2 separate regions of the Homo sapiens genome follow, and region 1 is linked to region 2. Evidence: fine-mapped expression QTL. A gene starts in region 2. The other region holds a variant in brackets. All regions are shown on one strand. Distances are between the middles of the regions.

Region 1 (15,260 bases), 71 kb before region 2:
ACCATCCCCTTCACAAGATTTTCAATTCTCGTCCACTGATGCCTGATAAAACCCTAATCCTGGTTAAACCCATTGCCCACTTACTCAGCACCAAGAGGACTACTGGGAGAAACATACACAATTGTGTTGACTGAGTCACTTCAAAGCTACAATCACAGATGTCAAATTGGCACTTGACACCACCAAATGATGTAAGTGTCCTTTCATAGTAAATTTATTTTCCCACTCTTTGAGAGATTGTATCTTTTGTCTTCTCTCTCCTAAAATCTCCAAAATCTCTGTCTAGCTCATGACTGACTGGCCTATATACTTCAGAAAGAAAATATTCAAAATCAAATTAGATCTACCTTTTCAATCCACCTCAAGTCCACAAACCAAACTGCATGTGTATCAATACATTCTGCCATCCCATCTGCCACAGTAGATGAAGTTTCTATCTAGTATAGCCTCTGCAATATTGTTCTGGGCTGCAACCCAGGACAAAAACCCTCTTGTTTTCACCTTATAATTACCTTCTCTTTTACATCATCAAGATCTCCTTATATACTGGATCCTTGTGACTGGCATAAAACATACTGTTATATTTCTATTTTTTTAAAAAAACAGTACAAACAACCTAACCAGAAAAACCTTTCCCTTGACCTCTTACCCCCAACAGCCTCCATCGGATTTCTCCATTTCCCCATCCCATCAAGATTCAGCTTTCTCATCTCCCCATTGGCTTCTCTTCAGTCCACTTGAATGGATTTGTGTTCTCATCATTGCACTGAAGTGGCCCATGTCAAGGTCATCACAGACCTCTCTCTTGACAGAACCAATGACCAATTCTTTATCCTTATTTTCCTTGGCTTCTCAGCAGCATCTTGGCTCCGTCTTGAAACACTTCTCAATTTTTCCTCCTAGCTCTCTGGCTGTTTTGTCTTCCCCAGGGATCTGTCCTCTTCTCATCCTGTGTTCTTTTACTACATGAGTTCAGACTGTTCCACAGCTTCAAATATCCTTCTGATGCTGATGATTCTCAAATATCTGTCTCTAGCTGGAGTTTCTTCCCTGAACTCCAGACTTATATATCCAACTATCTTCTGCCTTTCTATTTAGATGCCTATTAAATATCTTAAACTTACGTGACCAAAACTAGCTCCCCAACCCCCAGTCTTTTTCTATAAAGTCTTTCCCATCTCAGTAAATGGCATATCAGGCTAAAATCTTGGACTCATCTTGATTCCTTTCTTTCCTTCATGGACTGCATTCAGGTCTCTGTAAGTCCTGTTGCTCCACCACCAAAATATATCCTCAACCTGTCTGTTTCTCATCAACTCCTTGCTAGAGCTCACATCCCAATCACCATCATGTCCCACCAGGAGAGAGGTACTGGTCCCCTACAATCTAGTATCCTCACCACAGCCCAAATGATCCTTCTAAATGCACAAGTCACTTCAGGCCATGCCCCCTCTGCCCCACCCCATCTTCCACGGATTCCCATTACTCTTGGAGTAAAATCTAAATTCCTTACCATGGCCAGAATGTTCGGTGTGATCTGGACATTTCTTCTTCCATTACTTCATCTCCCTTGACCCAACTCATTCTTTATGCCCCAATCATGCTGGCCTTTTGTCCCTGGAACACCCCCAAGCTTTTCCTGTCTAACAGTCTTTACATGTGCTGTTCTTTCCACTTGAGACATTCTTCACCCAAATATTCATATGGCTGCTTCCCAGATATATTGTCTATTGTCTAACTCTCTGTGTTAGAATATAAGTTCCCTGATGGCAGGGCTTCTGCCTGTTTTGTTCACTGCTTTATGCCCAGCATCTTGAACAATCTGCGGGGTACAGTATGTGTTGAATAAATCCTTACAGCCTGATTATCTCTTCTAACACCTTCATTGGCTCCTTAAGATAGGAATTCTTCTTTAGCTGAAGAAGAATTCAAGGACTACAACAATGAAGCCACTCCACCCTCTCGAACTTTATTTCTGCCTACTGTTTTAAGTCAGCTCTCCTTCAGCATGAGAATACTTCGTCTTTTCTTGGTCTGTTTCCTCTGCCTGTAGTGTCCTCACCATACCACTCTTCTTGTTTAAATTTTACACTTGTACCCAAGCTTAGCCTAAGAACGATTAGGACTTGAGGCTCTCCTGGATCACACAGGCCATAGCAATCTCTCTCTATCCCAAATTCCTATTTCTTTGATATTTTCTCCTTTCTCAAAATGCTATACTGTGTTGTTAGTGTTTTTTTAACATCTGTCTGTTTCTCCTATTAAATCATACATACCTGAAAACAGAGAATTGATCATAAAATGTTTTGAATCCCTAGTACCTTCAGAGAAGACGCATACATTACAGGCATTCTATGTTTGCTCATGAACAAAATGCATATACTAATGCAAGCTTGTTCAACCATGGCCCGCAGGCCACATGTGGCCCAGGATTGCTCTGAATGTGACCCAATACAAATTTGTAAACTTTCTTAAAACGCTATGTGATTCTTTTTGTGATTTTTTTTTTAGCTCATCAGCTATTGTTGTGTTAGTATATTTTATGTGTGGCCCAAGACAATCTTTCTTCTTCCAGTGTGGCCCAGGGAAGTCAAAATATTGGACACCCCGTTCCTATTCTTCAATCAGTATAGTCTAACAACACTATTAGCAGCCATTTATTTACTGCTTATTGGGTTCTAGGCACTATGCAAAGTGTTTTTAACACCTAGTTAATCTTTTATTAGAGAAGGATACTTGACTGATAGGATTTTGTCATTACCAACTTTTTATCAATCTTACACGGACTTCTAGGCCATATTTCTTCATTATACACCTCAAAATTTTATTTTTCCAACATTTTCTTACTCCTATTGTGTTCTATATTTTTAGAATTCAGGACAGAAGGTAAGTATAAGAATGAAATAAAATGCGATATGTAAAGTGCTTAGCACTAGAGGTGGCATGTGTTGGGAGATCAATGATGAAAGCTATAATTTACAGGTTCTTCTCAAATGAACTCTACCTGGCTAGCATGGTAGTGTGCATATTTGTAATTTACAATCATTAAAATCTTTATTGATGACACGTGCATTTCTGTGTACTGAGAGCTTATACTCTCAGCCCTGTGGGAGAAAACAAGAGAACATAAGGTCTGGCTGGCCTCTCTCTGAGGCCAGAGAGACTCTCCCTACTTGGGAGTCGAGACCGAGAGCCATGAAACAGGGATAATAAGGGACAGCACTTTATCGAGAGGTAAATGGAGTCATAATAATAGCAACACCTCATTATTTTATGGAGTTGATATAGTCTTTTATTTGCTCTTCTCAACATTGCAAAATCACTCTATAGATGAAGAAACTGAAGTCCTGAAATCTGATTCTCCCTTCAAAAGCGACAGTGTCTAAGTTCAAGCCCATTATTCTCGCTTTGGGTTCAGTGCCCTTGTCAATACAGTTTTCATTCATTCATTTGCTCATTTGTTCATGCATTCAGCAGATTTTTTTTGGTAACAACTACATGCCACGCACTGTGCTAGGTGCTTGGAATACAAAGCAATAAGATGCCACCCATATCCTTTAGGGCCTAGAACATAGGGAAAGTGGCAGAAAAAGTATGTATTAAAGAAATTCGCAAAGGAGATTCCTGAGGGCTGGTTCAAGAAATACTGTCACAGTGAACCAGCTCCTTATTTCATCATTTCATCATCATTCATTCAGTCATTTAACAAATATTTGCTGGGCATCTACCACGTGACAGACAATGTGCTAGGTCCTGAGACTAATATGATGAAAAAGGAATTTATAGTGTAGGAGCAAGGGAGTGGGAAGCAGATACTCATAGACAACTCAATGGATCTAAAAATAAACTCATGGTCTCTGTTTTCTTTTCTTTTCTTTTTCTCTTTCTTTTTTTTTTTTTTTTTTTTTTTGAGATGGAGTCTCACTCTGTCACTCAGGCTGGAGTGCAATGGCGCGATCTTGGCTCACTGCAACCTCTGCCTCCTGGGTTCAAGCAATTCTCCTGCCTCAGCCTTCCGAGTAACTGGGACTACAGATGTGCACTACCATGCCCAGCTTATTTTTGTATTTTTAGTAGAGACAGGTTTCACCATGTTGGCCAGGCTGATCTTGAACTCCTGACCTCAGGTGATCCACCTGCCTCAGCCTCCTAAAGTGCTGGGATTACAGCCATGAGCCACCATGCCAGCCATGGTCTCTCTTTTCAAACCTCTCCTTTATGCTACATGCCCTATTCCATTTAAAGTTCCTAAAATCACCCCCAGACACTCAAGACAGAACTTGGGAGTTTTCTCTATGCCTCCCTTTTGCTCATCTACCTACAATCAACTCTTGGCTATGTCCTTTCAAGCCTATGTCCTAAGCTTCTGTTCCTTCCTCTCCATTCCCACTGTTACTGCTCTAGCTCAGGTCCTCACCACCTTTTGCCCAGTAGCCGTGAAATGTCCAAAGTGGTCTCTTCACCCCTGGCCTGAGACCAGCAGCCACTGCCCATGCATCCCATGCATGCTCCACCTACACTTTTCTTACCTGTAGAGTGACCTTTCTAAATCCAAATTCAACCTGACATTTCTGTGCTAAAATCTTTTTGAGCGTGCCTGTCCTTTCAGCTGAAGCCCAAATGCCTTCTTATACATCAGAGCCTCTTGGCGGGGCTCCTGCCCACTTTCTAGCCTCAGTTTCTGCTGTTCCTCCCTAACCACCTCCACTGCCCACGTTCACACCCCCGTGCTCTACTGATGAATAACAGAAAATAGTCCCTGCTTTGGGAAGCCATTTCAACATCTTCCCCTAGGTTAGGTGGATTGGTTACTTTCTCTTTTAGCCACCATTGTACATCACACATAATAAAAAGCATAGCTACTGATGACTGAGCACAGCAATTCATGCATCATGCCAGACCCAGAGGCAATAACAATAGTGTTTAAGGACATGAACTTTGGAGATAGCAAGATGGGTTCAAATCCCAATCTGTCATTTGTTTAGCAGAATGATCTAGGGCAAGTTACTTAAGGTAACATCTCATTGTTTTTCATCTTTAATATGGGCATAATAAAAACCCTTCATTGAATTGTTGCAAGGATTAATGAAACAACAATGAAACAGTTTTGTACACTTTAATGTACAAAAAGTGCTTAGCATTTTATGATGTAACAGTGATATCTGTTACATCATGAGCTATTATTAAGTTAAAGTCATAACTACTGTGGCTGTATTAGCCTTTTTACATATACCATAATGAATCTGCCCAAAAACCCTGGAAGTTTTCATTATTTCCATTTTACAACTAAGGATATTACTTGCTCAAAGTCATATAATTAGAAAGCAGCCAAGTTAGGGTTTAAGTCCACACCACAAAACACTATTATAGCACTTATCAGATCTTTTGGAAAGTATTTACTTGTGTACCCAGCGCTCTTCCAGGATGGGAAGCTCCCACATGGCAAAGACCTTGTCATATTCATATTTCCCATAGGAAAAATTTAGGAAAGAATGAACAAATAAATAGCTATGTATTCAGCCAGGGGAGACTGATGGCTGTGAGATTCCAATCCTGGAAGAGGAGGGAAGTGGCTGGTATGGTCACTGTGGCAATGGAACGAGAGCCATCCCCTCTGCTCCTGGGTCACTCACTCATTGCTTCAATCTGCACATGGATGAGGTTCTCGATGTCTTCCTGCAGTGTCTGATGGGGCTTCAGGGGGATGGGCAGGTAGCCATAGTGCTCTCTGTTGCAGAGGTACATCTGGATGCCTGAGGATCCAAGAGAGGGACAAAGCCAACAATCAGAAAACATACTGCTGAGTGACAAGCGAGGAGAAGGAACCTGAACTGTGTCTGATGCTGAGTTTGACACTGCAATTAAATAAGTGGTTGTTTCAGGTATGTCTATAGACCTAAAAAATGCTCCTTTATTAAAAAAGTAAAACACAGCATTGGGGACTAATAAAAACACTCGGCTATTCTTCAGCCCAGAGGAAATTGATTTTTTCCCTCTGAAGAAAAAGCAAACTCATGGCCTGGAATGAACAAAAAAGGCATGAAAGGATCAAAAGGGAGGCAAGGAATTCCCATTCTGGAGAGCAGAATGGAACACTGTAATCCACCTACAGGAAATAACAAGAAAATGAGGAATGAAATCCACATTTGATATGAAAGCAAACAGGAAAATTCTGTAACGCTGACAGATTATTAAAGCTAAATCTAGGCATACATAGAACAAAAAAACGAAAAAACGAAGGAAATTTAAAATTCTCCAAGATTCTCCCTGGTTTTATTGCTTCCCTTAGCAGGCATGGATTTGGAGCCAACCAACAGACATGAAACTTCCAAAATCAGTTCATATAGAGACAAAAGAGTCTGCATTTCAGAATGTCCTGTTAAGAACCTGTAGTGTGACAATACCAGAAGTATGCAATACCCTTCTCATATTCAAATTGTTCTTCATAGCCCCACCTGATAACTTGCAGAGTTATAAGGCATCTGTGTTTAACCAGACAGCTAGAAATATAGGAATCAGGATGGTCTCATACACATCATTGGTCAGCAATTGACACTCCTGATCAATGATAAGACTGCTTAGTGAAAAGGATGAGTCCGCCATGTATCCAAGCCTCTGGTCCATGTATCCAAGCCTGTGATTTGTTAATTGCGATAATTGTCAGTGTTTTCCAGAGAGATAATTATCTGCATAGGGACTCCTCTATTTTGTGCAGATGAAATTTCCTCCAGTCAGCTACATCATCTGTCAAATCAGGTGAAGCTGTCTCATGGCATTAACAGAGAGGAAGGAGAAAAGAAAATAACCTTTATTCCCTGCTTTTACTGAATCTGGCTTGAATCAAGGCTGGTCTACCAAGCACTGTCCCTTCTCTTGCCTTCACCGAGCAAACTCATTAGCTCTGCTGTTTGCCCATATGAATGCTTCTGGGGAGCTTCAAAGTGCACCTTCTTGTAAAGTCATGATGAATTCAGGAAGTGGAAGGAAAAATATATTAAAGTTGCATCTCTACCCTAATTAGGCAAACCATTTTACCATTTAACTTTCTGAGGCTTCCATAAAAAAATGATATGATACCTATCCAAATTATCCATCAAGTGTGAGGGTACAAGGAAGGCATTTTTAGACATGCAAGACCATAATATATTTACTTGCCATCATACTTTCTCAGAAAGCTGCTGGATGATGTGAGAGAAGGACGAGGAGGAAAGGAAGGAAGAGGAGGAGGAGGAAGAAGAGGAGGACGATTATAACCAACAAGAAAGATTATAAACAACATGAACAGGAGAGTCAGTGTATAAGAGAAGAGAAATAAGTCTTAGGTTGATAGCTTCAGCACCACTTGGATTAGAATATATTAGAAAGCTCCAGAACAGACGTCTTCGCAAATATGCAAAAAAGGACATCTGACAAATCTGGACATTCTGAGAGGAGTTTGAGGTAATTAGTGATTAGTTTTGGATCATACTAGTAATAATAAAACTAAGCAAAAAAGGCAATTATTAAAGGAATTGCCTCCAAAGAATGGCAAAGGAAAACTAATCATAGCCTATGAATGACCAAGCTTGGAGTTAGGCTTGCATGATTACAACAAGAACACTGACCATCAATCTGTTTGAAATTACAATGGGAGAACAGGGTGATGAGAAGAATGTGTTTGCATGCAGAGGGCAAAAAGGAAGAAAAAGAGCTAACTCCTCACAGTCTATAGTGGAGAGTCAACAAATAATGCCCACGGTGAAGCCAGAAAATCAAGAAGTAGCAATGCATGCATATTATTTAACATGGAAGTAAATATTAGAGATAAAAGTGGTTGCCTTCTGGAGGACAGAAGTGATGCAGGGTGATGTGCAGGGGACTGTTCATTTCTTAATAAACCATGGGGAACTATATGAATACTTTCAACCATGTGCATGGGCAGTTTGATAACAGAAAATTTAAAAGAAAATGTATTAATAATTAGATAAAGTCTATGAAAGAGTCTGCACTCCCAGTGAATGCTGCTTCTGGGGAAGACAATTTTTCTTTTGAAAAAGAGAAGTGAATTACGCTACATTTTGAAGGACTGTTTTTCTTTTAAACATATTAAACATTTTCTTGTACTCATATAGTACCTTAACATTGCAGATTGATGTAATTATCCCTATCTTTGGTGATGAAAAATCAGATTCAGGCTGTCACTTGTCCAAGGTCACATAGTAAGTCATTAGTGCCAAATCTTTGTCCCTAAAGAGCCAATGCCAAGTGCTTTCTACCCAGTCAGTAATTGGAAGCTCAGTTCCAAGACCATTAGTCACTAGGGGATTGCCATCCCTCCACAAGGGGACAAATTTGATCACTACCAGTGGTGTTCAGGATCTGTCTGCCCATTGCCCATATCACTCACCTCTTTTGACTCACATCAGACATTTGGAAGACGACTGGCTGGC[A/G]CTGGGATGATTCCTGTGGCCATGATACAGAACCCAGATCACTGGCCACAATGGGAGGTGAACTCTTGACCCTGGACTCATTACAGGAACAGAGACGCGCCTATGACCATATGTGCTCTCTTCTTGGGCTAGAAGGGTGGCCAAGCCCTGCTCACCAGCACACTTGGATTGCTCCTCACTCATCACCCACATGGGGCAATGGCTAGAGTCTGGGGTGAAAGATTTAGGACCAAGGTTTGTGGTTGGATGGTCCTGCCTGGGACATAGATGATACACAGCTAGGGAGCTTCAGAAGAGTGAGAACAAAAGAATACCAATCATATTTCATGAAGAAAGAGGAAAGTGCTTTGCTTTGAAACTAAGGAAGGAAGAGCCTGGAGACATGCCCTGGGCTGCACATGACTCCCAGGCTCATTCATGTTTCTCTTGAAAATACTTAGAGATAAGTACAATATTACCTTAAAATCCACAGTTGTCAAGAAAGACCTTTCATTTCCCCAAAATGACAGTGAATCTTTCCTGCCTTGACTCCTGCCCTGTTCATGGTCTGCACCGCCAGTCTGGCCCTTAGCTTTCACTGCTTCATGACTATTAGTTGTGTTTTCACATGTAAAAATCTTAACTCCCAACTAACACCGTGCCAGGAACAGAAGGAAACACTTGGGAGTTCATCCTCTCTCTTTCCTTTTCTATCTCCTCTTCCCAAATGAGTCACCAAACAACTTTGGGTGTCTACCTGCTTTCAATGTTCTAAAAAAGCCTTTTCAAAGTCTGACCAATAACACACAAAATCCTGGTGAACAGGCCAAGCACAGGGCAGAGCTGAAAAATTCCTGCTTAACCTGAATCATTTTTCCCATACCAATATCCAGGTATTGGTTTCATACAATGTATCATAATAATTTAGTTCATTGCATCATAATAATGCTTTGTGCAGTGACTATAAAGGAGGACTCTGTTAGGCAGTGTCATTCGTGTAATTGTTAATATCTCACTTTCTTGGAACATCCTAACTTCAACCTCTGAAGGAAAGGGATTGGCACTCAAAGGACTCAAAAAGCCCTGACTTTGCTTCCCATCCTGGGGAAGTCAGAGCAAATCACAGACCAACTGAAAGAAGGAGTTTCCATTAACACTGACATAGGAATCTTTACAAAAATCTTCCAATCATATGAGGATTGCTTTTGCCTAGACATAAGGGCTACAAAATGCCTACACCTGGCCAAAGGGTCTAAATTGCTCCAGCAGCCAAGGGGGAAATCAGCCTGACCCATTTCTACCAAATATTCTTATTCTCAGCAAATCTACAACTGATGAGTGGGACATCTATGGCTTTAAGGAGAGTCTGATGTGTGAATTGTAGCTTGAATTTGTATTAACATTCTCATCTGCCAGCCACTTCCTCAGCTGCCGGAGGATCTTTGCACCATCTTTTCCACCCTCAGTTATATGGCCACAGTGAGTTTATTCACCATCTTCTTGGTTTATGAACGTATTTTTGCTAGTGGTTAAGTGACACATTTCTGGCACATTAATAATGGGACCCAACTTCTGTCAGGAAAGTCTGAATTATCCTAACAAAGCTTTGCTCTGTTAGATGCCATGTGTCTTGCTGTTGAACTGCTCTTGTGAATTTTGTCCTCCTGAAGCAAGTGTAGGGTGAAATGAGAGAAATAACTTTCCTTCCTGTTGACTTGTCTTTCTCAAAAATCTCCAGGCCCCACTAGAAATGCTTTCCCAGTGGTTCATAAAAGACCTCAGTCTCGCTTTGCCTCTCCTTCCACAGGGACTGAGGCTGAGACTGTTCGGTGCCTCTTTATCTGTTCTTTCCTTCTTCTAGAGTGTGAAAATTGCAGTGCATGCATGCAGAGAATAAAGACGACATTCTGAGCCTCCCTTACAGTGAGGTATTGTCCTGTGACTAAGCTCTAGCTAACAGGATTTGCATGGAAGTACTGCATTCAACTTCTGGATTGCACACTTCAAGGGACAGGGAGAGTTCTCCCTGTTGTTTCTGCCTTGCTGGCTGAAACGCATCCATGGTGGTGAGACACCTGGGACTCCACAATTAAGGGCAGTACCTCGTGGAGTGTGAGAAGCAATACACAAGAAGCCTGGGACTCTGAACACTTTGTGGAACAAAGCCACTACAGCAGCTCAGACTTTTTCAAGAAGAAATAAACTTCCATTTTTAAAGTCTGGGGTCTTTGCCAGTGTTGTTTTAGGCCTCTGTGACAGTTTCCTAATTAATAAATGAACTTCTATAATAAACAATTGCAATGCAGTAGCACCACAGAGAAGCAATCACCTTCCCATAATTCCCAATATCACCACCAGTCCCTCCAACTCAAAATAGAGTGGGTTCCTGGGTAGAGGCCAGCCCTGGCTCTTGGTCATTGGTGCTCCCAGGGACAGCAACATAGAGGGTGCTGGTATGGTTATTGCAGACAATTTACTGCCTCTCACTACCAGACATATGAGGGTTTTTTTTTTTAATAAAATGCACAAAACAAAGGAGCTGGTCATTTTGCTGTGTCTCCATTGTGGCACTACAACCAAAGACAAACAGTACCTGCTTGCCTGCTGGAGAAGGCAAAGACAATGATGTCATCAAAGGTCCAGGTGTAGTCCTGGTGTGGGGGGTAGAAAGTCAGCTTGTCCGAGGCCTCCTTCCTGAGGTCAATTAGGAAGGTGGAGTGGACCATGGGGACGGGGAAGCAGCCTGTCCTCTTCCATTCTCGAATCTGAACGTAGTCTGGGGTCCTCTTATAGAAGCCCTGTAAAAGAGCAAATAGGTGGGTTGTGTTTTCTGATTTGAAGTCTTCATCCTTCTCAGTCATTTGCTAGACTGATTCCTTTCAAGTCATTACCAGCTATATACAAGCTCCCAAACAAAGCCACCTTCACTCCTCTTATCATGGCCTATGAATTTCCAAGTGAGCACAAGAAATGCTGTCTACATATAAAATAATACTAAAAGGGTCTTGATATAAGAAGTAACTTTTATTTCAGCATATCTCTAGATTTAATAATTTCATAAAAGTGTATTTTATGTTGACTTATGATTAAATATGAAGCATGAGTATTAAGAAGTGGCAGAGCAGTTAAGGGCACAGGTTCCAGTGTCAGACTCCCTGAGTTCAAATCCTACCTCAGCTACTTATTGTCTGTAGGTATGGGTCAAGTGACTCAACCTTGCTGCGCTTATTTCCTCATCTCTAAAACAGGGATGACGGCACTATCTACTCCATGGGGTTAGCTGTAAAATTTAAGTAAGGTAGAACCTGAATAGTGTTGAGACTACTGCCCAGCACCAAGAATGTATCAGCAAATACCGGCTCCTATTAAAATGACATTACACTGTGGCTAATATTTGTAATTAAACATGCATTACTTAGATATACAAATGAGGGTCTTCTTTCAATGCAGTTACTTAGTCAATATTCTGGTGAAGCTGCAGCTGCTCCATAGTTTTTGGGGATTCAGCTTCTGAAACGTCCTTCTGCACAAGCACACAGGACAACCAATTTCCTTATTCCAAAGCTTGAATCATTTCCAGAAAAGATGAAGATATATCTCAACAAAACATGCTTACAAAACATACTTGTGGAAGCTTTGCCAGGCATTTTGGAAAATGTTCTAGGTGATGGCAGGCTCACTGGAATGAGTGTTAAGTTTTGCAAAGCCAGCACTCCGAAGGGCACCATACTCTGGAAGTTCTTATGTGTTCATTAATCAGTTGCATCACTTCATGGTTACATTTCCTGTTGTAATTCAGCATCCACACATAAGGTGCTACAGCCTCACCTACTTCTCTGACATTCCCTTCAGGTTCTAGAAGAGTGTCCTAGCTGAGCTAACCCTAATGCCGACCCCATGATAAGGGAGGAGGATCAAAAATGAGGACTCAGAAGATGTGGGTCTCAGAGTCATCTTAATCACCTTCTAGCCGTTTGATCTTAGTCCATGCCTACCCTCTTTGAGCCTGAGTTTTTTCTCCTGAAAAATGGGATAACAGCTGCTCTGTCAATCTCATAGAGCTGCAGAATGAATCACATGTGATAAGGTCTATGAACCTATTTTGGGAACTGCAATTCATTATATGAAGTATTATCATTACTATAATGTTTTTATTAGCCTTTAACTTAAGGATCATTTAACATCCTCTATGGTTTTCCTAATACTTCAGCTTATGAGCAGTCTTCCAAGAGATAAAGGGGACTCGGGTTTTTTAAAGGGCTGCCTAAGTACTTGCGTCTAATATAAAGTTCTAGATTACTTAGGAACAATATTCCCAGAATGATTAGCTTGGAAAATCCATGATGATGATGAATCACTGAATATCCTTGGGGTGGGGGTGAGAAGGAAGGAAGCAGGGAGAGTGAGGGAGAATAAATGTGCCTCCTGCAAAGAGGCAGAGATGATGAATGTGTTCCTTTTTCCACATAAATTGAATCTTGTTGGTAATAATTCCTGTTCATTGGCCAGACAACATCAAGGACATTTTGTTTTGAATGAGTTTAAAGGCTCTGGGAACCAGGTCCTGCTTTGAATTTATGAAGTCACTGGCCCTTTCTATTCCTGCTCTAGTAGAGACTAACTGGGATGGTAGAAAGCCAAAAATAAATGGAGGAAAATAATACTTGTCCCTAAGTTGCTCAGAATTTAGTTTTACTGTACAAAACAAGTGAGCACATTTCTCCTATTTGCTTTTAAGCCTGAAAGTAAATAAGGAGATAATACAAATTTGTAGGCTGCGGCCACTAGGATAACCCACCCTTGTTGCTGATGTCAAAGCACAACTCATTAAAAACAACCCTCAAGTGATTCTGCCATGTGAAACACTGAAAATGTATGAATTTAAACCAATATAATGTTTTCTCCCAAGGAAGTGAATGGCTGTTAGAAATATGAACATATTACCTTCCCAAAAGAGACACAGAAAATAGCACGCATTCAAAATCTCTTACAGCTAGAAGAAATAATTACAACAAAAGAGGAATGCTTCATCCAGTGGTGTACTGGACCACACATTGTTAAATTTTCAGAAAGTTTGCAAACCAGTTGACATGTTGATAGCTTGGAATCCATAAAAACAAAAATCACGTTAATCCCCACCACTCTAATGACACCTCATGTGGCAGTTTTACATGTTTTTAATAGCTGTATCATCAAGTGGCTATACTGCAGTTTACTTAACCTTTCCCTTAGCTTAACAACATTTAAGCTGTTTGCATGGTGGGAGTATTTAAACCATAAAAATTGGCAATGCTACCAACTAGGGTTTTTCCCACAAAGAGCCAGTTATTAAACATTTATCAGCACACTACTGACCTTATTTCTCATCCAAAACAAAACCAAATATAAAGGGGAGACTCAAACTTTAGCCCTTTGGCCATGAGAATACATTGAACATACTCCCTCTTTTTTTGAGACAGGGTCTCAGTTGCTTAGGCTGCAGTGCAGTGGTGTGATCATAGCTCACTGCAGCCTCAACTTCTTGGGCTCAAGCAATACTCCCTGCTCAGCCTCCCGAATAGATGGAACTATAGGTGTGCACGACACCACAACTGGTTAATTTTTTGATTTGTTGTAGAGATGTGGTTTCGCCATGTTGCTCATGTTGGTCTCAAACTCCTGGGTTCAAGTAATTGTCCTACCTCAGCTTCCCAAAGTGTTGAAATTACAGGCATGAGACACTGCTCCTGGCCAACATATTTTGCTTAGCACATTTTTATCCTACATTGATACATATTACATTAATCAGTTGAATTTATCTAATTCTTTAATTAAAGAATAAAAAATATAACCAGCCATGAGCATTCACTAAAACAGACCACTATTTTGAAGATTTTACTATGAAAAAAAGAAATAATAAAAAATCAAACCTTTTTTAACTTGAATTTTATAAAAATAACCTACCATGGTAGTTTTCATTATTAGAACTCTTTGGAAATAAATTTGGCAACATACATCGAAGGTCATTGAAATATTTGTACTTTTTTTTTTTTTTTCTTTTTTGAGAGGGAGTCTCGCTCTGTCACCCAGGCTGGAGCGCAGTGGCGCGACCTCGGCTCACTGCAAGCTCCGCCTCCCAAGTTCACGCCATTCTCCTGCCTCAGCCTTCCGAGTAGCTGGGACTATAGGCGCCCAACACCACGCCTGGCTAATTTTTTATATTTTTAGTAGAGATGAGGTTTCACCATGTTAGCCAGGATGGTCTCAATCTCCTGACCTTGTAATCCGCCCGCCTTGGCCTCCCAAAGTGCTGGGATCACAGGTGTGAGCCACCGCGCCTGGCATATTTGTACTGTTTGACTCAGTAATTCCACTTCTAAAAAGCTATCCTAAGGATATAATCTTAAATGCTGAAAAATTATATTAATCATGACGGTCACGATAGTTAAAAAGTTGTGAATAATTTAAATGTTTTTCAAACCGAGATAAAGGTTAAGTAAATTGGAACATAGCCACTTGATGATAACACAGTTACTAAAAACGTGCAAGTTTCTATCTATGATGTTGTTACGGTGATGGGGATTTAACATCTGTCTTGTTGGTTTTCTTTTAAACTTTTTTTAATTTCTAAGTTTTTCTATAGTGTTCTTATGTTAGTTTTGTAAGGACAAAAAGAATTAATTAAAAATAGTAATTCCTGAATCAGGAATTGGCTAATTTGACGTTTCTAAGGCTAAGCTCTTTAGACTATTTTTTTCATAATAAATTAACACAGAAGAGCCCAACTGGGTGTAGCATTGGACCCAGATTTACTGCCCTTCCTAAAAAATGCTTGCTCTGGGAACACAATGACACGCATGTTTCAAGGGAGTA
Region 2 (15,260 bases):
GGTGTTATCAGAGAGGCCTTCAGAGTACCTGCCTGGAACAGGTGTTATATGAAGCTGGCTTTTATTGTGCCACCCAGGGCATGGCTGTAGATAGGCTGGCAGTGTTTAAAGAACATGGGATAGAGAGATGGATTTTAAAATATCACACTTATCCAGAACTGGATATGTAAAACACTCATATTTGGGTTAAAATGAAAAGGATATATGTATATGTATAGAAAGTTTCTAGAAAAATATGAAAGAAAGTGTTAATATTGGTCACTGGCAGGTGGTATAGAGTAGATGGGAGATTTACTTTTTGTGATATTCCCAATCATACTTTTTTTATTACTTTCCCATTTAAAAAAGTCAGAAGAGCAAATTCTTAAAATAACTGAAGTACTATTAAAAATCCATAAAGACCCTAAGGGATTCAAATTTTTAAAAACTAACAATTTTTGATATGCTAACAACATATCAATTAAATGCAATTAAATGAACAAGTCACTCTTTTGAAATAAAAATGTCAAAACATAGAATACATACGTTTTGTAATTCCTGATGAATAATAGCTATAATTTAAACACATATGGTAAAAGTTCTTCATGATATGGTAACTGGGGAATAGGTGTAGTGGCCATACCATAGGCTAATGATTTTCTTTCAGACTTTACTGTATGTTGTTATGCTATGTCAAGAAATATGCAGAAACAAGCCTTATTATTGTCCTACTATAGTCCTATATAAGCCTTATAATGGTCCTACTATACTGTGCCATAGACTTGGAGACGGTGCCACACAGCAATATGACCCAAGTGCACGTTTAAGTGTTGGAAAAAGAACCAAGAGACAACCAGCAGCCTTCTCAGTTACAAGGCATTCATTGTTCATTCCTATGACCACCAGAAACAGACAAGCAAAAGGAACCTAAGAAGCACATGCTTATGTATTTGGAGTCACAAAGAAACTCCCTGGCCTAATCACTTGGATAAAGGAGCTAAAAACAGATCTGAGAAAACCAAACTCTGCTTAAAATACTCCCCATGCTCCTTTAAACCAAGAAGGATATTCATTATAAAATAATCAGCATTAAAACAGCTACACAGGATTAAAAATCTAGAAATCAGTTATCTCATTCCATAATCACCATGGGAATCTCTTAACTGCCCTGTGCTTTAGATGCCTCATCATGGAACTCAATATAATAAAACCAGGGCAACTTAGGCATTCTTACTAATTCTGTAGTTAAGCTGTCATAACTGGAACAACAGGATTGGTGTCATTTATTAGTCACTTCAGTTTTTACCCAGAGGAAATATTCTGAGCTCCAATCATATTTTGAAATTGGAGGTTGCAGGGAGGATTGATAATTTCTTCAATCATTTGGAATGAAGCTGAATTTAGGGGACAACCAAATCTAAGACTACTGATTAAAAAGCCTGAAAAATGGAATCTCTATTTTACCAATATGAACTGAAAATGTAGCCAATACGTGTATGATTAGTGCCACCTTAATCATTTGCCACTAATAATACTTGAGAAATTTCTTTCTACTGTTATGTAGCTATGATCACAGCAAGTGACCTGCATATTTATGTACAACCCACATTTTAGTCATAATCTGTCCCTATGAAATATACCAAAACAGATTAGAGTTCACTAAAAAGTGCCTGAACTAAGTGATGAAATTATCAAGACAGCGGAAGAGAACCACTAAGACCCTTGCATCATTCAAGTGGAAATGACAATTCTTATTTGAAAGAAACACTAGCGTTCTTATCTTCCCAAGTTGGGTCAACCGACAGAAGCAAAAACTAGAACTAATTGGTCTTTTCACAATCTTAAGCAGACCATCTGTACTCGGTCTGCAACATTAGCTGCCTGGGTCACATCCTGGCTCCACCATGCATTAGCCTAGTGACCTCAGGCAAGTTATTTATATTCTCTGTGCCTCGGTTTCCTTCTGTGTAAAGTGATAGAGTAGAATGTAATGGCATCTCCCACCTAGGGTTGTTGTCTGGAGTAAATCAGTTTTGATACCAAAGTGTCTAGAACAGTGCCTCCATGAATGTATCCTTCCTTCCTTCCTTCCTTCCTTCCTTCCTTCCTTCCTTCCTTCCTTAGTTCTTTATTTTTCCCTTCCCTTACCTTTTCCTTTTTCTTTTCTTTTGAGACAGGGTCTCGCTGTGTTGCCCAGGAAGAAGCACAGTGGCTCAATCTCGGCTTGCTGCAACCTCCACCTCCTAGGTTCAAGCAATCCACCCACAGTCTCCCAAGTAGCTGGGACTATAGGTGCATGCCATCGTGCCTGGATGATTTTTACATTTCTTGTAGAGATGGAGTTTCACCATGTTGCCCAGGCTGGTCTTGAACTCCTTGGCTTAAGAAATCTGCCCACCTCGGCCCCCCAAAGTGCTAGGATTACAGGCATGAGCCACTGCATCCAGATAAATGTTAGTTTCCTATACTAATATTTTTTGTTGTTGTTGGAAAGAAGAAACTAAACAAATTTCCATTTGAAGATTTTTTAAAATCTTGATTTTGAAAGGTAAAGGTAAAGGAGATAGGAGAAAAAGGAAAAGATTCAAAAGAAATAGCAACTATCATTGTTAGTAGCATTTATGTAAAAGACACTGTGCATACCTTATATCATTTACTTGTAACAATAACTCTTTGAGACAGGTGTTACTATTAGTTATTTGAAGATAAGGCAGCTATGTCTTAGAGGTTTACTGATGTGCCCACAATCACACAGAAGATTTATGCTCTAGTCTATCTGACCCTAAGCTTGTATATTTCTTCCTCCAACTCTGGTTGATGCCCTCCACGCTAAACTACCAGATTGGGAAAATGAGGAAAGGAGGAAAAAGGTGAGGAAAACAGACTAACAGACAGAAGGGGCCTAAGGCATCATCTGCTTTTTCAGCCATAAACCGAAACTTCTATCTGTAGGGATAACATACAACATTTAATATCAAGAGTGTAATGATAAAATATGACATCATTCTTACCACTGGTGCTGAAAAATGTCACTGATACTAGTTTGGAACAGTTTATAAACACAAAGTATATTAGTATTTCTAGTTAAACAATTATGAAAATGCTACTGATTGGACATTAAAATGTGGAGATAAATTCAAGATAATCCCCAAACAATGCAGAAATAAAGTAGTATGCAAAATGTTAGGACCATCCCCCAGCTCATCACTGTTTATGTTTATGTCAACAGAAGCTCCTCTCTTTATTTAAAAATCCATAAAGCGGTTCCCAATTTAGTATGTTACTTTTCAAAACTCTGCCAAACAAAATGCCCAAATCTTTCTGTAATTACATAGCAGTTACTGCCTTGTGCCTGCACAGACTCTGTGAATCCCAACTGTCTTCCCACAAGCAACAGCAGGCTCTCCAAAAGAAAAACTTAATGTTTCATTTGGGGCAAATGTTTTTCCCTGCGCCATGCTTCGGTTTTCACTGTCATGGTACTTGGCCCCACTCTCCCTAATCATAGGTTTAAGGAGGATGAGGTCAGCCTTCCCTCTGTTGCTAAGGCTACTTGCTCATGGTTCCACTGAATTAAGGAGAACCCACTGAAGTACACTACCACTTGTCACAATGCCTCACAGTTCCCTTCATCTCAGCATATTCCCAATTCCCTAAAACTTAGTGCAGGTTTTAGGACACATGAAATAGATATCTTCCTTAGGTCCTTATCACAGGATTGTGATATTTGAAGGAAAACAATTAGCTTGGTGGATTTTGAGATCAGACAGGTAAATGTAAAAAGCTTTCCTTTTTGCTTATACAAAGTATCTCTAAAATATAAATTTTCCTTTGTTCAGACTAATCTGAATAAACTTGATGCTGACTGAGATAACTGCAGACATTCTTCAACAACAGTATCTTCCAGGTCAATTTGATGATACTCATTTCATCTGTATGTGCAGTGCAGATCTGGTCCAGAACTTAAAGTGAGAAAAATTATCACATAACAGGGGAGTCTGAATGTGATCAATAAGCCAGGTCTCTCACTGACCCATCTGGGACAGAAATCAGATGCTCCTCTAGCCTGTGAGTGGATGAATGAGAAGAGTGAGTCTGCACAGAGTGAGTTATTGTGGTCAGATTCAGAGGAAGCTGAATTCTGTGTGGCTCTGTATTCACTGCGGTTCTATTTTACAAAGTTCTGGGTAGCTCACAGCCATTTTTGACATCAGCATGTGCTGGCTTTGCAGAATGGATACTAATCAGTTTGGCATCTTGGAATGTTGCATAGAGCTTGGGAATGAGAAACTAGAGGCAAGCAATCGGTAGAAGCACCTCAAATCTGTAACATCCTAAACTGAGGTACCACCTCCCATCAGAGTGTTATATCTCATAAGCTTCCCAGCCAAATATTCCCCTAGGGCCAGACCAGAAGTCAGCACTTCCAAAGAGATTCTATGGTACAATACAATCTGTTTGGAGACTTGCAGTCATTAGACCTGCCACCCACTTGAACTCCCTGAGAGAAAACTCTGGTTGATGCCCTATTATCTTTTTTTTTTTTTTTGCTTGTTTTTTGCCTTGCTGATCCCTTTTTCTAGAGCCATCCTTCTTTCCCAGGTTTTAGTTGATTTTTACTCTTCCTTCAAAACTGAGTTCAAACTAAGTGTCCACTCATCAAGAAGACATCCATATCCATACAACTGCCCCAATCTGATTTATAAATCATTTGGTTCTTCCCCAAACCCTTTAAAAGCCATTCAGATCACCTTACACTGCCCAGTAAAATGAATCATATTTATCTGTAAAAAAACACACATATCTAAATACACTTTTTTTCAGCCCTGATCTGGCTGGTTCTTATTTTAAAAAATGCATTAGAAGAATATGCTTGTACAGCCTCTCTGTACCTCAGTTCTCTCACCTGTAAAGTGGTATAATAACAGTGCATATCTGATAGGGTCATTTTGAAGCTTAAACCAGAAAATGAATGTGAAGTTCTTAGAAGAACCACGAGCTCTTATTATTATGTGTGGAATTTATAAATAAATGTAATTTTGAGTAAGTCAATCACTTTAAACACATTTCTTCTTCTGGGAAATAGAGATAATTTTATTTCTTCACAGAATGGCAGTAAGAATCAAATGAGTTAACAGTGCATGGAAGTTATTTCCAAAGGTTCTTTACAGCTCCTTTGTGAGCTGAAAAGAACTATTTAGAAACTGGGATTTGTATTATTGTTACCTAAAGAATTACACAATGTTTTAAAGACAGAACCAAAATTTTTCAAAGAAGAGTCTTCAATGACTGACGCAAGCATGGCCTTGCACTTCTTGCTTAACCTGCCAATGCTGGACATAAAAGACAACAGATTTCAAAGGTCTATGCAGAACTGGAATTCTCTCATCTAAGTAAGACACCAGTGTCCATACCATCTGGAACTTACAGGGAACTTAGGATGTACATTGATGCTGGTTGATCCTAATTATATTGCAAAATCTATGGAATTCAAGAGCCATAAAGAATTTTTGAAATCATTTATTCCAACTCCCTCGTTTTATTGATGAGGCAACTGATGCCTATGGATCCCAAGCAACCAGCCCCAAATCACATATCAAACTAGTAATAAACAACTCAAGTCTCCTAATTTGTAGATTATAGGCTTATGTAAATTTTGTTTATATCATGTTTCCTGCCTTTTTAGGGTGGCCTTGGGTTCAAATTCCAGTTTCACCATTTATTAATTCTGTCACTTTAAGTGACTTACTGAACTGATGCAAGTCTGTCTCTTTCTTTGCAAAATAAACATCATAGCATCCTCTTAAAAGTTTACTGTATGATAAAAAGAGGTAATGTCTCTAAATCAGGTAGCAAAGCATGTGCCTGACACCTGCTTCACCACTCACCAACTTCTTATGGTAAATACTGTAACGTTTTAAAAAACTAAATCATGCATAAAGATCAAAACCATATTTTAAAATATCTCTTAAAAAAAACACAACAACTAAGGTAACTGATATGTGTGAATTTCTTTTGGTACCGAAGTGGTTAAAAAAAAATCCTTCCTTCTGGTTTAAAGCCTGGCTGTCCCAGTGCTCTCTTTCCACATAATATGCCCTTCTCCGCCAGGCGGTCACGTATGGCAGGGTATATAGTAAAGCAGTGTACAGCACAGAGCTGTACTATATCACATGTTTGCTTTCGCACCTTTGCACCTCTCCCACCAGGTACTCTGAGGCTGCCAATTCTAGCTGCTGCTTTTACTCCTCTTCCTCTCTTTGCCCAACCGCTGCTTTAAGGATGTGTCTCGCCTGAGAACAGCTCCCTTTATCAACACAAGACAGAAATTGCTCCAGAGTGACCTGGGCTCTGTCTTCCTCAGGGGGCCAGAGTCTTCTTGTCCGAGTACCTACCTGACAGCACATCTCCCCTGGCCAGCATCCACCTCCTTGTCCTCCACAACCCACTCAGCGGCTAACCTGGCCACCAACTAACTTCTCGCCCTCGGATCCTCGCGTTTATAAAAGGTGCGAGACGACCAAGTTCTACAAGGTGGGGCGGGCAGGCACCCGCACTTATCCCCTGGCCCTCCCCGCAGCAGACACAGGGACCAGGTCCAAGCTTCTTTCCTCCGGGGACAAAACTTGGCTGTTTATCTTTCCCAGGGCATCTTCGTCTCTCCCCGGGACGTGGAACCCCGATGCACCGGCAGGGACAGCCCGGAGCGCTCGCAGGAGACCAGGCCCACGGTGGTGCCATGGTTGGGCACACTCCGCGGGCTCCGCCCAATCTCCACCCCTAGGTCCAGGTCCCCCTAGGAGAGCTAGGAGCACATTTCCAGCCTGGAGCAGGAGCCCGGCACCGGAAAGTCAGAGCAGCGCACTGCGGCGCCCCAGCCACTGCGGAGCCCCTGGCCAACCGCAGTTACGTTCCATCTGTCGTATCTACATGGGAATACGGCGACAGGCACCCTATCCCCTCACGTCAGGGCTAGCAGTATGAGGTGGGGAAAGAGGAAACCTCGAGAGTTAAAAGCGAGGGAACTGAAAGTCCCCTTGAGGGGTGTCCCCCATGCCCCTTGTGGGACAAAGCCCCAATTCGCAGGCTACCCTCCAGAGCTCCAGCGGTCCGGTTCTCCCCATCAGCACCCTCTGCGCACACTGACCCGCGCGTCCCTCCGCAGCCTGACCGCCCGATCCGCCAGCCACCGGCGCGGGCAGCGAGGGGGTGTGTGCGCCAGATTTTCCGCGTGCCCCCCCGCCCCTCCAGCGGCTCCCTCGCCCTGCAGCTGCTGCTCCGGGCGCTGTCCGCGCTGGGCAGGCCGCCCCCGCGTCCCGCCGCGGCGGCCCGGGGCCCGTGCGCGCTCACCAGATGGCCATCCTGCTCTTGGGGTAGTCCAGCCGCTCCAGGCAGCCGAGGAAGTGCGGCAGCGTGTGCGCCGCGTTGCGGGCGAGGACCGCCACGAGCACCGTGGGGCTCTGCAGGGGCGACTCCGGGAAAACCACCGGCTCCTCTCCGTCGTCCTCCGAGTCCCGCTCGGCGACGAAGCGCGCTCGGCAGCCTTCGCGGAGCAGGGCTGAGGAGAGGAGCAGTAGCGACCAGGCGAGGGTGGCAGCAGGGCGCGCAGCCATGTTCCGGGCCGAGGCGGGCGGCGGGGAAGTCCTGGCGCGAGCGCCCGGCTGGGCTGCCTGAGGGCGGCGGCGGCTGCCGGGGAGCAAGGGGCTGCGAGGGGCGGCCGGGGGATGCGGCTTGCCGCGGCCGGCCGGCTCACACACTGGCCTCGGCGGCTGCGGTTCCCAGGACCCTCCCGCCGCCGCTGCACCGCCCAGGCCCCAGTGCGGGTGCGCAGCGTACCTGCAGCCGCTGGCGCTCCCCTGCGCCTCGGGCTCGCAGACAGTAGTGGCCGAGGGGCTGTGTGCCCTGAGTCCTGAGGAAAGTTCCTCTAGTCCAGGTTCCGCTCGTACAGCTGAGGTCTGTGGCCTTCCCTAGAGCCGCGAGTTGTGGCCCTGTCTGCCAATGAGCCTGTGAGTGTGTGTGTGTGTGTGTGTGTGTGTGTGTGTGTGTGTACATAACGGTACAACCCCAAGAAAATTTATTCTGCTTTTGCAAACCGCAGACTGAAGCCCTTCACAGTGATGCAATGTATCCAGTTTTCATAATGCACCTATTGACTGAGTAGAGTTCTAAAATGAAAAGTCTCCCCAACTATTCACGATTATGACAAACACTTGTTTAACCACCGCAAAGGCAGCATGTCGCATTTTCTTATATACTCAACTTCTGAAATTCATTCTTGACTGAGTAGACACCTAATAACACAAAGTTTGAAGACTTGGAGAATTTTGGAGCCAGATCAGACCCCGCAAAATAAAAGAAAGCCCTTGGGAGACACTGTCCTGAAGCCTCACTCTACTGTGAACCCAGTAAGCCTCCTCACAGGAGGGCTGTGAAAGAATAAATTCACTTAGCTGGTTTTCTTTTTCCGTAATAAGCCAATATGATAGAGTAACAAAGAGGGAAAATTCGCGCATGTTGGAGAGCAGAGAAGAGATAAGGAAGAAAAGAAGGGGTGAAGGAAGAACACAATTAGCACATAAAATGAAACTGCTGGCATACACTGCTAAAGGAGATTTACTTTTTTTTTTTTTTTTTTTTTGAGACAGGGCCTCACTCTGTTGCCGGGGCTGGAGTGCAGAGGCACGATCACAATTCACTGCAGCCTCGACCTCCTGGGCTCAAGCAATCCTCCCACCTCAGCCTCCCGAGTAGCTGGGACCACAGGTGTCCATCACCACGCCTAGCTAATTTTTTTTTTTTTTTTTTTTTTTGTAGAGACGGGTTTTCACCATTTTGCCCAGGCTGGTCTGGAACTCCTGGGCTCAAGTGATCTGCCCAACTCGGCCTCCCAAAGTGTTACGATTACAGGCATCAGCCACCATGCTCGGCTGGATATTTAGTTTTGAAGATATATTGTGTAGCCTTTGATAGATAAGTATGGAGGGTGTTTTGGTGCCAGTGCACATTCATGATCTCCAATCCCAACTCACCCTCAGGTCTGTCCCATAGTCTTTTTATTAGTTGTTATCAATCCTTCTCAGCAACTATTAGAAGTCTTCCCTACTGTCTTTTGAAGTATATCACCTCCTTCATCCAGCTCCCCCAACACCACTGTCTCCAACTAGCATCCCTACCAAGACCTTTCTTACTTGCAGGTGCCTCCTCACGACAGGGTCTTTGATCACAGACTAGAAAGGGAGAGGTCTCCCTTTCTAGCCCATGATTTTTCTCTATCATTCCACTCTCTACTGAATCTTCAACTGATCTCTATCAACTCCTTTCTCTCAAGCTAAATACTTGGTCAGTCTTCTCTTATCCGTTAAAAAAAAAAGAAAGAAAAGCTTTAAAAAAAAGTCCTGTGTCTTCTTCTAGTCATCCCTTTGCTTGACCAAGCTCCTTGGAAGAGAGATCTATACTTGTATTCTCCACTTCTTCATCTCCCATCTTTCCCACCACAGTGCAGTAAGGCGTCAGCCCTCCCCACTGTTCTGCAAAACCAACAGATGGCCTCAGCATTGGCAGATTCAGTAAACTCTTCCGTTCTCACCTTCCTGGACTTCGATTACATAATCTCCCATCCTAGATCTCCTCTGATACTACTTGTCTCTGAGCCAAGCCCCTTCACTGTGTGCCTCCCTATAGTGTGCTAGTCTTCCCACTCCATATGGTCTCCTGTGGTTATATCCTCAAAATCTATGTCTTCTGCTCTAATCTCTTCTCTAATCTTCATATTTTTTTATCGAATGGCCTACAGACATTTCCTTCCCCTCCATCCATTTTCAGGAATTGTTCCCACTTTCAAGGGGCTCACAGTCTTGTAGGGAAGACTGAGAGTTAAACATCTGTTAGAAGTACTGTAACAGATGTACCAGCTACAGTGAAGGGATAGAGGAAGATGTGGTCATTTCCACAAGGGAGGTAGTGATGGGACTGTTAGAAAGGTCCAGACAATCTCCATGTTGTTCTGTCTTTCTTGTTTCCCTTTCTTGAACTATGTCCCACTCATCTTTCAATACTAAAATCCGCACTCCTTAGCCAAACTTGGTTTGATAGTTATCATTTGTTCACTTTACTGCAAACAGAGGGAGTTTAAAGCTAGGCAACCACATTTCTGTCTTATTTTCCTTCTGTTACTGATATGGTCTGCCTATGTCCTCACCCAAATCTCACATCGAATTATAGCTCCCATAATCCCCACGTGTCGTGGGACGTAATTGAATCATGGGGGCAGGTTTTTCCCATGCTAGTCTCGTGATAGTGAATAAGCCTCACAAGATCTGATGGTTTTATAAAGGGCAGTTCCCCTGCACATGCTCCCTTGCCTGCCGCCATGTAAGGTGTGTCTTTGCTCCTCCTTTGCCTTCTGCCATGATTGTGAGGCCTCCCCAGCTATGTGGAACTGTGAGTCCACTAAACTTCTTTTTCTTTATAAATTACCCAATCTCAGCTATGTCTTTATTCACAGCGTGAGGACAGACTAATACAGTTACCTAAAGTCAACAGCTTATCTGAGTCTATTTTTTCAAAGAAAGGTGAAGCATCTAAACCTGTATGGTCTCTAATGACATTATAATGAAATCGGCTCCATGGAGTTCTCTTAAAATAACTACAACCTGCTCTGCTCTGTAGATGAAATCAAGGGTTTCCCAGCCACATAACCTACAAAACACCTATTTAAAACTTTTAATTGAGTGCTCATTTAGTGACTGAGAATATTAAGGTAATAACAGGGTATGCAACAGTAGAAGATCATTGTAAATATGGTTGGGAGGCAGTGGAGGGGAAGCCTGGGAAAAATTAAGTCCCCATCTTACTAACAGATTTGTTTCATAAGTTCTTCAGAAATCAGTAATGTGAATTTGGATGTTTCCCCCCCGCATAGGATTGATGTTATAAGACAGTTAATTTGAAAAAAAAAACTAATTTAAAAATAAAAGCCAATTATATTTTAAAATATTCATTGCTTATAATGCTCTTTCCATGGAAAATCGGCTGAATGGAAAGTCAGGGTTGTACACACATATCTCTTTGTCTCCACTGCCAGTAGACTGTTCCAATTGATTCTACATAAAGTTAGAAGTAAGCACTTTCTCTCATATCCCCTCCCCATACTGTTCCAGCACAGGGGACTTCCATCTGGGACAACAAAACCTCTTGGACTGTCACCCTTAGTGCAATGTGGTGGGGACAGGGCCTATGAGGTGGCCAGAGGACTTCTTGCAGGAAAGCTTCTCAAGATGTCTGTGGCTCCAGCAGCCCAGAAGAGGAGGAAATAAATGCCTCTGGGGCAGCTGTGATAGGCTTGAAAGAGCAACTGACACTTGGAGCTGAATTTTCATTTCACTGGTGTCACTTATTCTCTTTGTGACCTTGGAAACTTGACCTCTTTGAACATCAATTCCTTCCTAGGTAAAAAAGTTTTAAATGCTTGCCTCATTTTTTCATTCAACAAACATTTATGAAATTGCTAAATGCCAATCATTTGAGTGTTGAATATTTGAATGCTTCTCCCTTGGAAAAACAGGGAGAAAGTGGCCAGCCCCTCGTAAGTCCTGCTGGGCCATAGTTGGCAGAAAGAGTCTCTTGGCTGAATTATCCAGGCTTCTTTCTTCTGTACTGAAATATCTTTCTTTCACTACCTGGTTTGTTTTACTCGCTTTTCTGATCCATCCTAAAATCCTACAATGTAAAATGTACTTGAATTGACAATTCTGCCAATTTCAACATGAAAATCCTTGAGAGAGGAGCATTAGATGATATCTTTTTAATTCAATCAGATTTTTAAATCTTATCACCTAAACTGAAATGGCCTATAAGAAGTTTTGATAAAGGGAACTGAATGGGATCCTAATTTGAAGCATGGGTCTCTTTGGTGACAAAGCAAGTTTTATGGATTTCTGATACGTAGGCCCGAGGACTCTGGGTCCTAGGAAGGGAATTAATATTAAGGGAGAAAAAGAGCAGTGACTGAGGTGGGAAAGGCTAAAATTAAACTACGTCAGTGTCAAAGTTTTGTCTATGCTCTGGCTGCATCCAAGAGCTATAGAATAGTCACTACGGAGGAATGTTTTCCAATTCAAAACAAGTTTATACAAATGTAAACTACACTTCTACGTCTCATTTAAGAATAGATGCATCCCTTAAATTATATTAACTCATTCCTTCAAACACTTGCTCAATGCCTACTCTGTGCCAAGATATAGTTGCTGGAAATGCATGAATAAATAAGATGTGTCATATAAATGCACAAATGCTATAAGTCATTTTATGTCTTATGATGGAAAAAGGAGCATAAGTAAGGAAGTGGGGAAGTGGAGATAGCTAGGAAATGTTTAATTAAAGAGATGTCTTTGAATTGAGCATTGAAAAATAAGTAGCATGCATGGACAGGAAGAATTAATATTTTTAAAATGGCCATACTACCCAAAGCAATTTACAGATTCAATGCTATTCCTAAACTACCATTGAGATTTTTCACAGAACTAGAAAAAAACTATTTTAAAATTCATATGGAACAAAAAAGAGGCTAAATAGTCAAGGCAATCCTAAGCAAAAAGAAAAAAGCTGAAGGCATCACGCTACCCAACTTCAAACTATACTACAGGGCTAGAGTAACCAAAACAGCATGATCCTAGTACAAAAACAGACACATAGACCAATGGAACAGAACAGAGAACCCAGAAATAAGACTGCACACCTACAGCTACCTGATCTTTGACAAACCTGACAATAACAAGCAATGGGGAAAGGATTCTCTATTCAATAAATGGTGCTGGTATAATCGGCTAGCCATACACAGAAGCTTGAAACTGGACCCTTTCCTTACACCAGATACAAAAATTGACTCAAGATGGCTTATAAATGTAAATGTAAAACCCAAAACTCTAAAAACCCTAGAATACAACCTTGGCAATATCATTCAGGACATGAGCACTGGCAACGATTTCATGAAGAAGATGTGAAAAACAATTGCAACAAAAACAAAAATTGACAAATGGGATCTAATTAACTGAGCTCCTGCATAGCAAAAGAAACTATCAATAGAGTAATCAGACAACTTACAGAATGGGAGAAAAATTTTGCAAACTATGCATCTGACAAGGGTCTAATATCCAGTATCTAAAAGGAACTTAAGCAAATTTACAAGAGGGAAAAACCAAACAACTCCATTAAAAAGTGGGCAAAGGACACGAACAGATACTTTTCAAAAGAAGGTATAGATGTGGACAACAATCATATGAAGGAAAGCTCAACATCATTGATTATTGGAGAAGTTCAAGTAAAAACCACAGCGAAGAAGAGGAGGAAATAAATGCCTCTGGGGCAGCTGTGATAGGCTGAGAATTATAGGATAACCACAATGAGATACCATCTCACACCATCGGAATGGCTACTAAAAAGTCAAGAAATAACATGCTGGCAAGGTTGTGGAGAAAAAAAAAACGCTTATACACTGTTGGTGGGAGTGTAAATTAGTTGAACCATTGTAGAAGACAGTGTGGCAATTCCTCAAAGTCCTAAAGACCATCGATCAGGTAATCCCATTACTGGTTATATACCCAAAGGAATATAAATCATTCTATCATAAAGACACATGCACGTGTATGTTCATTGCAGCACTACTCACAATAATGAAGACATGGAATCAACCTAAATGCCCATCAATGATAGACTGGGTAAACAAAATGTGGTGCATACACATCATAGAATACTATGCAGCCATAAAAAAGAATGAGATAATGTCTTTTACAGGGACATGGATGGAGCTGGATGCCATTATCCTTAAGCAAACCAATGCAGGAACAGAAAACCAAATACCACATGTTCTCACTTATAAGTGGGAACTAAATGATGAGAACACATGGACACATAGAGGGGAACAACACAAACTGGGGCGTATTGGAGCATGGAAGGTGGGAGGAGAGAGAGGATCAGGAAAAATAAGTAATGGGTACTAGGTTAAATACCTGGGTAATGAAATACTCTGTATCAAAAACCCCCATGAAACAAGTTTACCTATGTAACAAATCTGCACATGTACTGCTGAACTTAAAAGCTGAAAAAAATATAATTTGATTCGAAATATAAGAAAAGAAAAATGAGTAGCATGGACTAAGAAAAGGAAGACAGAAGGGGAAAGAGATGGGAATTCCAGGTAGATGGAACTGCAGGAGCAAGGAATGAAACAGTATGACACACTTGAGAGATACAATGAACAGGGCATGGCTGGGAGATAGGATGGGAAGTAGTAACAGAGAAAGCTAGAAAATTATACGGTTTTATACAATTTTATATATAATCATTTCTTTAAAATGGGCAAAGGACTTTGAATAAACATTTCTCCAAAGAAGATATACAAATGGCCATAAGCACATGAAAAGTTTCTCAACATCACTAATCCTTAGGAAATGCAATTCAAAACTATAAGATTTATCACTTCACACTCATTAGGATGGCTACTAGAAAAACACAGAAAATAACAAATGTTGGCAAGGGTGTAGAAAAATTGGAACATTGTGCACTGTTGGTGGGAATGTAAAATGGTACAGCTGCTGTGGAAAACAGTATGACAGTTCAAGAAATTAAAAATATAATTACCATATAATCTAACACTTCTACTTCTAGCTATATACCCAAACAAATTGAAAGCAAAGTCTCAAAGAGATATTTGTGCACCCATGTTCACAGTGGCATTATTCACAATAGCTAAAATATGGAAGCAAACCAGGTGCCTATTGATTAGTGAATGGAAAAGCAAAATGTGGTATATACATACAGTGGAATAGTATTCAGTCTCAAGAAGGGAGGAAATTCTGACATATGCTACAACATGTTAACTTTGAGGGCATTATGCTAAGTGAAATAAGCCAATTTTTAAAGGCAAATATTGTATGATTCAACTTATATAAGGTAGTTAGTCAAAATTACAGAGACAAAATAGAATGGTGGTTGCCAAGGGGATGGGGGTAGGGGAAATGGGGAGTTATTGTTTAATGGGTATATGTTTCAGTTTTAAAGATAAAAGAGTCATGGAGATGGATATGAGTAATAGTTGCACAACATTATGAATGTATTTAATACCACTTAAAATAGTAAATTTTTTGTTATATGTATTTTACCACAATAAGAAAATAAGAAAAAGTCAATCCATGTGATTTATTAACAAACTTGAAAAATCATATGATCATCTCAAGAAATGCAGAGAAAGCATTTATGAATCCAACATGAATTCCTCATAAAAA

Direction of the effects. Positions count from the first base shown, and alleles are read on the strand shown. Sizes are in standard deviations (SD) of each study's normalised expression.
In carriers of allele A in region 1, the expression in cerebellum of the gene that starts at base 7,963 in region 2 tends to be lower than with G alone (small effect, 0.32 SD a copy in GTEx).

The links.
Region 1: its variant is fine-mapped to the expression of COLGALT2 in cerebellum (GTEx, PIP above 0.99). The same link has a PIP of 0.9 or more in adrenal gland, esophagus muscle, fibroblasts, hypothalamus, lung and putamen.

The regions. Positions count from the first base shown.
Region 1 is chr1:183,958,268-183,973,527 of GRCh38, forward strand. COLGALT2 (collagen beta(1-O)galactosyltransferase 2) reads right to left here. Exons shown (of 12, transcript NM_015101.4): 5 at 11,002-11,206; 6 at 5,634-5,753. Among named protein-coding and RNA genes, the nearest start is that of COLGALT2, 72 kb to the right of the region's middle. The variant A/G (reference allele first, on the strand shown) is at 8,430.
Region 2 is chr1:184,029,766-184,045,025 of GRCh38, forward strand. It overlaps COLGALT2 (collagen beta(1-O)galactosyltransferase 2), which reads right to left and starts at 7,963. Exons shown (of 12, transcript NM_015101.4): 1 at 7,330-7,963. The coding sequence starts at 7,592. RefSeq lists silencers at 1,650-1,944, 7,686-7,775.